Linked DNA regions of Homo sapiens. The protein of the gene in region 2 interacts with the protein of the main gene of each other region in a pairwise test. Each region holds a gene or a part of one and is shown on either strand. Other genes may lie near its edges.

Region 1 (4,931 bases), on a different chromosome or scaffold from region 2:
AAATAAATACGAGAAAAAGATAAGGGGGGAAATTAGGGGTAGTGGAAAAGCCAGATAGAAAAAGTAAGGATTCATGTTGTTTGGGTCATAAATTTGACTCCAGACTTAAGAAAGGCCCCGACAGAGAGAAAACATAATAAATAATGTGAGTTCTATTGTCTGTTCGTAAGATAAAAACACACATCACTTGGTGTATAAGAAGCCATGGTACTGAAGTTCAAGGAAAGACGTGTTTCCTCTGCCCCCGGAAAAGGGGCTTCCATAGGTGTCTTCTGCGGCAACTGAGCAGCTCTGTAACCTGGGCAGCTCAGTGTCCAGAGTTCTGAATGAACATGTGGCTCCCTGCTGGTCTGGCTCAATCCAAGGGTGAAAGGTAGGGCACTGTGAATCTACAGCGAGAGCAGAAGGAGAAAATTCATATGGTCTGAATCATTTGGCATTTATAGAATCTCTTAAATTGTCCAATGTGGCAACTTTCCTTCTAACGTTAAAAGAGATTTGCTGTTTCTTTAGGGGATTTATGGAATGAGGAAGTTGGCTTGCATTTAGGTGCAATGTTGCACAAAAAATTCTTATCTTTAGAGCTCTGGAATGATAGCCAGTGCAGGCAGTACTCCTGGCATGAGAGGCACGCAGAGACTGAGATGCCCAGAGGGTACAACCACAGGTTCATCTTTCTCCCTGGGCATACATTCTTGGTGGAAGAACAGGCACACTTTACATTCTCCCCCTCTCCTTTCTCTCCCATCTATGTAGTTGACTGTAGAAGTTTGGTGTGTGTGTTGTCAGCCTCACTGTGTCTACAGAGTAGATAGTATCCTTGTCCTACAGGAATATTGTTTCTTATAACTGAACTTAGCTACATATTGGGTGACAGAGGACCAGAATATATTCTCTGTCTAGAACATTAAATAAAGATACTCTGTTCTGATTCAGGGTAGATCCATAAGCATGAGCAGTCACTGGAACTGGGATTTGGGTTGTCATGGGTAGTGGAAGTGCTCAGGCCAGAGTGCTTCACTTGGCCTTGTGTCTCTGCCAGTTACTGGCTGAGTGATTTGTGCAAGTTACTTACCATCTCTACTTCACTTACCTTATCTGTAAATGGAGAGGACAGTGTTGGCCTCATAAGGCTGTTGCAGAGACTGAGATAATACATGAGAAGTGACAAGAACAGTGTCTGGTGCATAGTAAGTGCTCAATATGTGTAGATCTTTTATTTGGTGTTGTAAATTAAGGAGCTAAAGCAGATAAACGTAGCGTACCTCCCCACAATAGTAGATAAAAGCAGTTTTCTGAATAGGACATTTGGAAATCATAATCTTTTTTTTCTGATTCGTGATAATTTTATCCTTTTTCAGAGAAACAGCACCCAGGACTATCTTCCAAAGAGTTCTGGATATCCTAAAGAAATCTTCTCATGCTGTTGAGCTTGCCTGCAGAGATCCATCCCAAGTGGAAAACCTGGCTTCCAGTCTGCAGTTAATAACAGAATGCTTCAGGTGTCTTCGCAATGCTTGCATAGAGTGTTCTGTGAACCAGAATTCAATCAGGTAGTTACACACGTACCTTGGATTCTGTTTCTTTGTATATGTGCATGCTGGTTCTGTCATTTGGTTTATCTGTTAGAAGTTGTTTTGGGCTGGGTAAGGTGGCTCATGCCTGTAATCCCAGCATTTTGGGAGGCTGAGGCAGGAGGATTGCTTGAGTCCAGGAGTTCAAGACCGGCCTGGGCAACATGGTGAGACCCTGTCTCTACAAAAAAAATACAAAAAATTAGCTGGACATGGTGGCGCACACCTGTAGTCCCAACTGCTCAGGAGACTGAGGTGGGAGGATTGCTTGGGCCAGGGAGAGGCAGAGGTTGCAGTAATCTGAGATGATGCCATTGCTGCAGGCTGGGCCACATTGTGAGACCCTGTCTCAGGGAAAAAAAAAAAAAAAAAGTTGTTCTGGCATGATAGTATCACCCACTGTTATTGCAGGATTGCCCTTTACATCTGCTGGGAGAGGCCCTCTACAGGCCTTGCCATTGGAGTCTCTCTGACTAGTGTATAAAATAATGGAGTGTGTTTAACATTAGGGGTTAGATTTCTTGTTTGTTTTTATCACATGTTTTGAGGTATTTGGTTCTTCATAGTGTTTTGAAGCTGATTTTGAGTCTTTGTTCCTAGATTTTACCTGCCTAAGTTTATATGCAGTTCTTGACCTCAGGTTGTAAATGTTTTAATTACTTTTAATGTTTTAATTTGTTACTCTTGTGTTTGGACAAGAAGCATATTTTGTAAATTTACAAGATGACCTGTCTTTCCTAAAGATCATGTAAAGTTCCAAGCTCTGCTTCCACCTATTTTATGATGCGCACATTTTTAAAAGTAGTTAAAACATGAGCAGGCGAGCTGTCCAGTGCTCTTCTTTGCTTTTACGTGTTACCGTCTCCTCCCAGAACACAGCATCTTTCTTCTTTGATTTTGTGGAACCTGCTTTTTATTAAAAATTTTTACTTGAAGTCAGAAGCCACAAACAGGATGCTCACTTTCCTTCCTGGACTTGGATGTAGACAGAGCCTCCAGGCTTCCCTGTCACCACTGTGACGGGTAAGCTTGGGCTGGTCCAGAAGCCACTTGAGGGACTCCCTTCGGTTAGACACATATACCCGAGGCTTTGATATGATTAATGAGATTTTTAAGATCAAAGGAGAGAGGGTAAAAAGTGAGTCGTGTAACTTCAATACTAAACCAAACCTGCCATCCATTTGAGGATAAATGGATAGAAACAACAATAATCTTGATAATAATAGTCTACATTCTAAAACATAACTAGTTATATGCTAGAAGCATCTGGCCAGAAGGCTAGTTTCTTTTGTCCTTTTCCAGTCACAAGGTGCTCTAGTGTGATGGGGAAGGAAAGGAGAGCCGTAGAACTAACTTTTGACTGTGGCTGGCAGATACACCTTTGTGCTTGGCTAATCTTGGTGGGGAAGGGAGTGAGCATTCGTTGAGCCTGCCTTCGGCATTGGGCTTTGTCCCAAGGGTTTTGCTTGTAGTATCTTCTTTAATTCTTAGAACAAACTCAAGAAATTTTTTCATTTTTACAAAAGATGAAACTGTAACTTGGAGAGGTTAAATAACTTGTCTGAGAGTCACTTGTTAAGTGAGAGAGGCTGGGAACATTCTCTCCATATCCAGACATCTGACTCTAAAGCTTAAGCTTAACAAGCAGTCTGCCCTTACTGTTCTGAGCTTAAGCTCAAAAGCAGTCTGGGCCAGGCGCGGTGGCTCACGCCTGTAATCCCAACACTTTGGGAGGCCGAGGCGGGTGAATCATGAGGTCAGGAGTTCGAGACCAGCCTGGCCAGCATGGTGAAACCCTGTCTCTACTAAAAATAAAAAATTAGCTGGGTGTGGTGGCACACACCTGTAGTCCCAGCTACTCTGGAGGCTGAGGCAGGAGAATCACTTGAACGGGGAAAGCGGAGGTTGCAGTGAGCCAAGATTGGGCTACTGCACTTCAGCCTGGGCAACAGAGTGAGACTCCGTCTCAAAAAAAAAAATGCAGTCTACCCTTGCTGTCCTGAGCCTTACACACTGGTCTTGTTGTGGATGACTGCTCCATCTTGACCCTGGACAGGTGACTTGGTCTTCCTGAGTATCAGTTTTGTCCTCTGTAAAACTAGGTAAGCAATGTCTTCCAAACAGGCTGGTTATGGGGTGTAAATGAGATTACTTATGTAAATGCCTAATGCACATTGTGTGCTCAGTAAACATTAAATGTTTCTGCCTCTGCCTCAGGAATGAATGTACAACACAAGTTTATGTTAATACTTTCTTTCAAAGCAGTCAATTTTTATTTTCTTTTTTGAGTAATATATGCAAACTATAAAAATTCTAACATTACAAAAATAAATACTATGACAAGTAAGTTATCGGTGGTCTTTTGGTAGGGCCAGCAAAGCAAGGGCTGTGCTGTTTGTGATATCTTTTTATTGCATGCAACTTATGGTTGGGCGGAAATGAAAATGAACATTTAAGGGTGTTAATTTTTCTGCCTCTTCCCTTCTAGGATTGTATTATTATTCACTGTTGATTTTTAAAGGAAAATTTCAACCATTTAGGGCAGCAATTTTCAGAAAAGAATTTTCTAGTTAGAAATACTACAAAGATTCTAGTAAAGACTTTGTGGCCAAGCTTAACTAAGGCCAGTATTTCTGAGCCAGTCAAGATTCAGATTGCAACTAGTACATATTTTTCTGATGTTTTACTTTAAGTCGTTAAAGAGTTCATCAAAAGGTGTGATGCTATTAAAGCCTAGATCTTTTTACATCTTTTGCACTTTGTGTGGACTGGGACTGTTTTTGCCAAGAATGCATGGAATGGGGTAAAATACAATAAAGCAAAGAATCTGAGTCATGGGAAACTTCAGGAAGTACTCAAAGAAAGCTGTTGGAAGCAGTTAGCTCTGCATGTAAATATAACCTCTACTGCTAGGGTTGCTATATTTTTCCTGTAAAGAGCCAGATAATAAATAATTTAGGCTTTGTAATCTCTGTCAGATTTCTCAGCTCTCCCATTGTAGTGCAAAAACAGCCATAGACAATATATGAATGAATGAACATGTCTAATTTTGTCTTTTTTAAAAAACCCAGGAACTTGGATACGATTGGTGTTGCTGTTGATTTGATTCTTCTGTTTCGTGAACTGCGAGTGGAACAGGAATCTCTGTTGACAGGTAGCATGCAATATAATTCATGGATTATTTATATCTTTATAAAGGGTTCAAAACCAGTACTTTGAGTATTAACATCATTCATTGAAACACATGTTCTGTATTTCATGAGATAGGGAAACTTTAATAGTGAATTATTAAAGAATTATAAAGTTGTATCAACTTCCCTTCCTGAATGGCTGAATTTTGTTCCTTTCACATTTGTA
Region 2 (4,931 bases):
TTTCAGAGCATTGTGGACTGATACTTAACGGCGGTTGATAAGGGTGATGAATTACCTGTGACAAAAGAGGAAGTCTGGCTCAGACTCAGGGTGATACAGGGAAAGGAACACAGACAGAAAGTCAGGCCACCTGGGCAGCAGCCCACGCCCTGCTGTAACTGGCACACACTTATAGGCAGCTGCTGCCCTCTGCCAGGTCTGGATTGACTGAGTCCACCAGCGTCCCTGTGGTTAAACTGTCCTGGCCAGAGTGCCTTGAGGAGCTTCTTAAACAGAAGAGCACAGCTCTGCATCCATCACTACCTGCTGGGAAATTGGGGACTTTCTTGGCATGCCAGGGTTCGTGAGACATTCCCGTCCAAAATACAAAAACTCACTAGAAAAGCTGGAGATGCTTTAAAAGGCCTGCAGGTCAGAGGCCCTGCAAGTCAGAGGCCTTTTAAAGGTCTTTCAATACTTCCTGACAAAAGTGATGAAAGAGCAAAAACAGCCAGCCCTGGGGTCCCGCCACCAAAGCCCTGCCTGTGTTAGGCAGGTGGGAAATTTTGCAGCTCTTGCAGTGAGCTTCCAGGGTGGCAAAGTGGCAGGCGTCTCCTCCTCCAGCACACCCCCACCCTGCTCATCCCCCTCCTTGCCCAGGGACAGGAGGGCGTTCCCATAATTAAGCTCATCTGTAGAACTCCAGCACACAGCAGACGCTCCAAAGCATTCACGACCGCAATTTCATACAGTTCCAGAAAGGACAGCACTGCGGACACTGTCAGGATGAGGTGACAGAGGTCACATGGTTTCTTGCCTCACGATTAAATTAGAAAATTCCACATTTATTCCAAAATTGGCAGAATCCATCTCCAGGCTTCACAAATTGCCAAGAAACGCTGCTTTCTTGGAACTGCCAAAATTCAAAACCCCTGCCACAGCTTTCCTAACCCCACAATTTTTGCCAACACCAGCCACCTCTAGAAGATTAAGGTCAGTTTAAAATGGCCTTGGAGGCCGGGCGCGGTGGCTCACGCCTGTAATCCCAGCACTTTGGGAGGCCGAGGCGGGCGGATCACGAGGTCAGGAGATCGAGACCATCCCGGCTAAAACGGTGAAACCCCGTCTCTACTAAAAATACAAAAAATTAGCCGGGCGTAGTGGCGGGCGCCTGTAGTCCCAGCTACTTGGGAGGCTGAGGCAGGAGAATGGCGTGAACCCGGGAGGCGGAGCTTGCAGTGAGCCGAGATCCCGCCACTGCACTCCAGCCTGGGCGACAGAGCGAGACTCCGTCTCAAAAAAAAAAAAAAAATGGCCTTGGAACAGCTCAAAAGAAAAAATGGACAAAACATATAGACAGTTCACATTTGGCCAATAATATATGAGAGAGATATTCAACCCCATTCATAATTAAAGATACAGGAATCGAAAGAGGCCTTTCAGATGGTCCAAAATCAAAGCATTTCATTAAAACCCCAGGGCCCATGAAAAGTAGGAGAATCAGACATCGTCACTCACTACTAACAGGGTCATAAATGGGGTAAGCAATGTGGCAATGCCCATCTTTTGGGGCACCTATTGGCAAACCCTAGCAACTATACCGCTGGGAACTGATTGTACAAATACAGTAAGATCCGTGTACAAAAACAGTAACTGTAGCATTAATTGTAATAGGGAAAATCAGAAATAACTTAATATCTGTATGACTCTGGCTTAATAAATTATGGGCCATCCACATTGTAAAATGGAATATTATGAGGCTGATAATAAAATGGTAGAGAGGTAGCTCCATAAATATTAACATGAAAATGTATATATAGAATGAAAACAGGTACAAAAATACTTATAATATGGACCCATTGTGGTTTTTTGTTTGTTTGTTTTGTTTTGTTTTGAGACGGAGTTTCGCTGTGTTACTCAGGCTGGAGGGCAGTGGCGCAATCTCGGCTCACTGCAAGCTCCGCCTCCCAGGTTCACGCCAATCTCCTGCCTCAGCCTCCCGAGTAGCTGGGACTACAGGCGCCTGCCACCAGCCTGGCTAATTTTTTTGTATTTTTAGTAGAGACGGGGTTTCACCATGTTAGCCAGGATGGTCTTGATCTCCTGACCTCGTAATCCACCCATCTCGGCCTCCGAAAGTGCTGGGATTACAGGCGTGAGCCACCGCGCCCAGCTGGACCCATTTTTAAAAAATTACATTTGTACATATTTTGATATGCATAAAAAAATTCTGGAATGAGATACATACAAAACAAGATTCACAAGATTCACCCCTGGGGACCAGCCTGGGAAAAGGAGGAAGAGATCTTCACTTTTTATCATAAATACTTCCCATAGTGTTGCTTTCTAGCTTGTGTTTTTTATGTCTGCATGTATTTCATGTCAATTATTAGTAACCTCAGAGAACTGGGAGTGAAGGATGGAAAACTCTGGTCCACTCAGTCTCAGGGTCTCCATCACTGAAACCACTGAGACAGGACAGGGTGCTGGACAGGGGTACTCCTGCTTTGGAGGGAAGGTCAGATGAGTGATCACTCAGCTCCTCCAGCGCTGACACTTTGCAACCCTCAGATACCACAACCCCAGGTGACGCTTGTTCTCACGTTCCTGCCAAGAAATACAAATGGCCTGGATAAAGGTGGGTGTAGACATCTAAATATGGTATGACAACTATGCTGAGCAAAACAGCCCAAGGCTTTGACTCCGATCCTTTGGCTCTTAATTATTTAGCTCACTGATTAAGGACAGGACGTTCTTTTCCTTCAAAGACCCAATGGCACATTCTCTCTACGCACTTTCAAGAGCCCTCTGTCCAAATTCGTGTCTTGGTCAAAAAGAATGCTCTGCCCTTATAACTTTATTTCTGTATTACCCCCCACCCCTACCACACCCCAGCAATTGGGAGGTGGGCATATATCACCTGGGTGTTCCAGGGCACTATTAGGAGACAATATAGCTCAGCAGGTAAGAGCGCAGGCTCTGGAGGTATTCAAATCCTGCCTCCACCTTCCACTAACTCTGTGATCAAAGACAGGTTACTAAGCTCTCTGCACTGCAGTTTCGCATCTATTTTATAAAAAGGGATGACATCAGCACAGCCACCTCATAGGACTGTTGTGAGGCAGTAAATGTAAAGTACTTTTCAAAGCACATGCACCAAATAAAAACCACGTGCTAATTCTGTGACCACAAACTGGTTCCAGACAAAATCCGGTCTTTGAATAACGTCTCTTGCCAGAGGGGACTTTGTATATATCACCTATTTAAATAGTACCTTCCCAAAAAGACAGAGGCAAAGAATATTACTAGTTAAAATGAATACAGAACTATTTGAAGGCTATGCCTACATTCCACATTCTCATTTGCCCAAAATCTGAGCCCAAAGAGGCCACCCCGAGACTGGTGGCATTCTGGCATTGCACAGAGTCCAATGGTGGGACATTGTTTTGCCAGAACAGTTGTCTGGGCGCCTGTCTTGTCTGGTGCCCATTATCCTAAAACCCTTGTTGCTTGTCTCCTGTCTTGTAAACTGAAGACCTACAGCCTAGTGAGATCCATGAACGCGGAGGACGACTTCATCAAAAAGTGAGTGTGTGTGGCTAGGGGACAGAGGGCAAGGGGAGAGGTGCGAGGGCTTCCAGGGAGCGAGGCCGGGGAGGGGAGGGGGGCACAAGTGCGTGCCAGCAGGCAAATGGGGGTGTTGGTTGTGTCTCCCATGCAGGGTCTGTGGTCAACTTTGTGAGCCAATGCAAATCAGCTCACACTCAGGAACAAACAGGCCTCCTTACAGAGCAAAGTGCCTGTTCTAACAGCCTATGGCTATTTCTGGAAAGCCCCAGCATTCAGCATCAGCCGAAAATTTTAAGTTGTTGCAAGAATCACAACATTTGGTCAGTGGGTTGAAAAATCCACTGTAACCATGACCCTGTAGCCATGACCACCGGTGTGAAAATGCTTCTGGCTTCTCTCCTGATGGAGCCCAGTCCATCTGGTTCCTCCCAACCTCTCAGCTGGGAGTGGGAGCGGCACAACGCGCCCTGCATCCCTCAGTGTGCAGAACAGCCTGTGGGCCAGACACTGCTGAGGTTTTAAGACTCCTGGGCCACATACCTCATTGTGAAAAGTGTCAGCCTGGGTCTGGGTCAGCCCAGACCCAGAGCTTTCTACAGGCAGAAACTCACTACTCAACATATCCCTGGCTGCACAGACCCCACCCCAACCCCAGCTGCTAAGGGCTTGTTGGGGTGAATTACAGGTAGGGAGACAGACAGGGGAAAGCTGTGGAAAGAGGAAGAGGAAGGGAACCCACAGGAAGGGAGGTCAGGGCACTTGCTTCGGACCCCAGCAGCCCCAGGGCCCAGTGTGGCCTCCTAGGGGGCACAGATTCCCTTCAGGCGCTGGTGCATCCTCTGATCAAGGAGCAGGGCCAGTGTGGGTGTGTCCCCTCGACACACAGGCATGGGCCCCTCTCTCTCTCCAGACCCTCCCTCACAGCTCAGAAAGCGAACATTTCAGAAACAGCCATCCGATAGGCACCTGGGCCTCTTCTGAATGAAGAACCTGTGACGTCACTGAACGGCTTTGCTTGGGTTTTGTCCCAACTCTTTTTTCCCCACACACCCCGTTCCAGTTTTAAATGAGTGGGCTTATTATACAATACATTGGTCCAGGGTTCAATAAAGTGTCAAAATTGTGACTTTGCCCTTCTCAAGGAACAAGCCCCAAAGCTGCTAGTGGGTGATTCCAGGGACTTCCTCCTCAGGACCCCTCAAAAGCTCCAAGATCCCACGCCCGGGCTACCAGTGAGGAAGTGCAAGTGCAAACAGGTCGAACCACCAGCCTCGGTGTCCTGGCGGGACCTAACACCTGGATGTCTCTCAAAATGCTCCAAAAGCTGCCGACATCCGTGCAACAGCCCCCTCCCACCCTAAGGAAAAAGCTGCCTGTACCCC

The links. The genes of interacting proteins can lie anywhere in the genome.
Region 1: the proteins of LPIN1 (region 2) and ATXN10 interact in binary tests that used the Homo sapiens proteins (3 or more experiments, as listed by UniProt).

What each region holds. Positions count from the first base shown.
Region 1 is NC_000022.11:45,688,351-45,693,281, forward strand, and holds part of ATXN10 (ataxin-10), read left to right. Parts: intron 1-1,361; coding exon 1,362-1,553; intron 1,554-4,645; coding exon 4,646-4,728; intron 4,729-4,931. UniProt on the Homo sapiens protein: May play a role in the regulation of cytokinesis. May play a role in signaling by stimulating protein glycosylation. Induces neuritogenesis by activating the Ras-MAP kinase pathway and is necessary for the survival of cerebellar neurons.
Region 2 is NC_000002.12:11,748,794-11,753,724, reverse strand, and holds part of LPIN1 (phosphatidate phosphatase LPIN1), read right to left. Parts: intron 1-4,931. UniProt on the Homo sapiens protein: Acts as a magnesium-dependent phosphatidate phosphatase enzyme which catalyzes the conversion of phosphatidic acid to diacylglycerol during triglyceride, phosphatidylcholine and phosphatidylethanolamine biosynthesis and therefore controls the metabolism of fatty acids at different levels.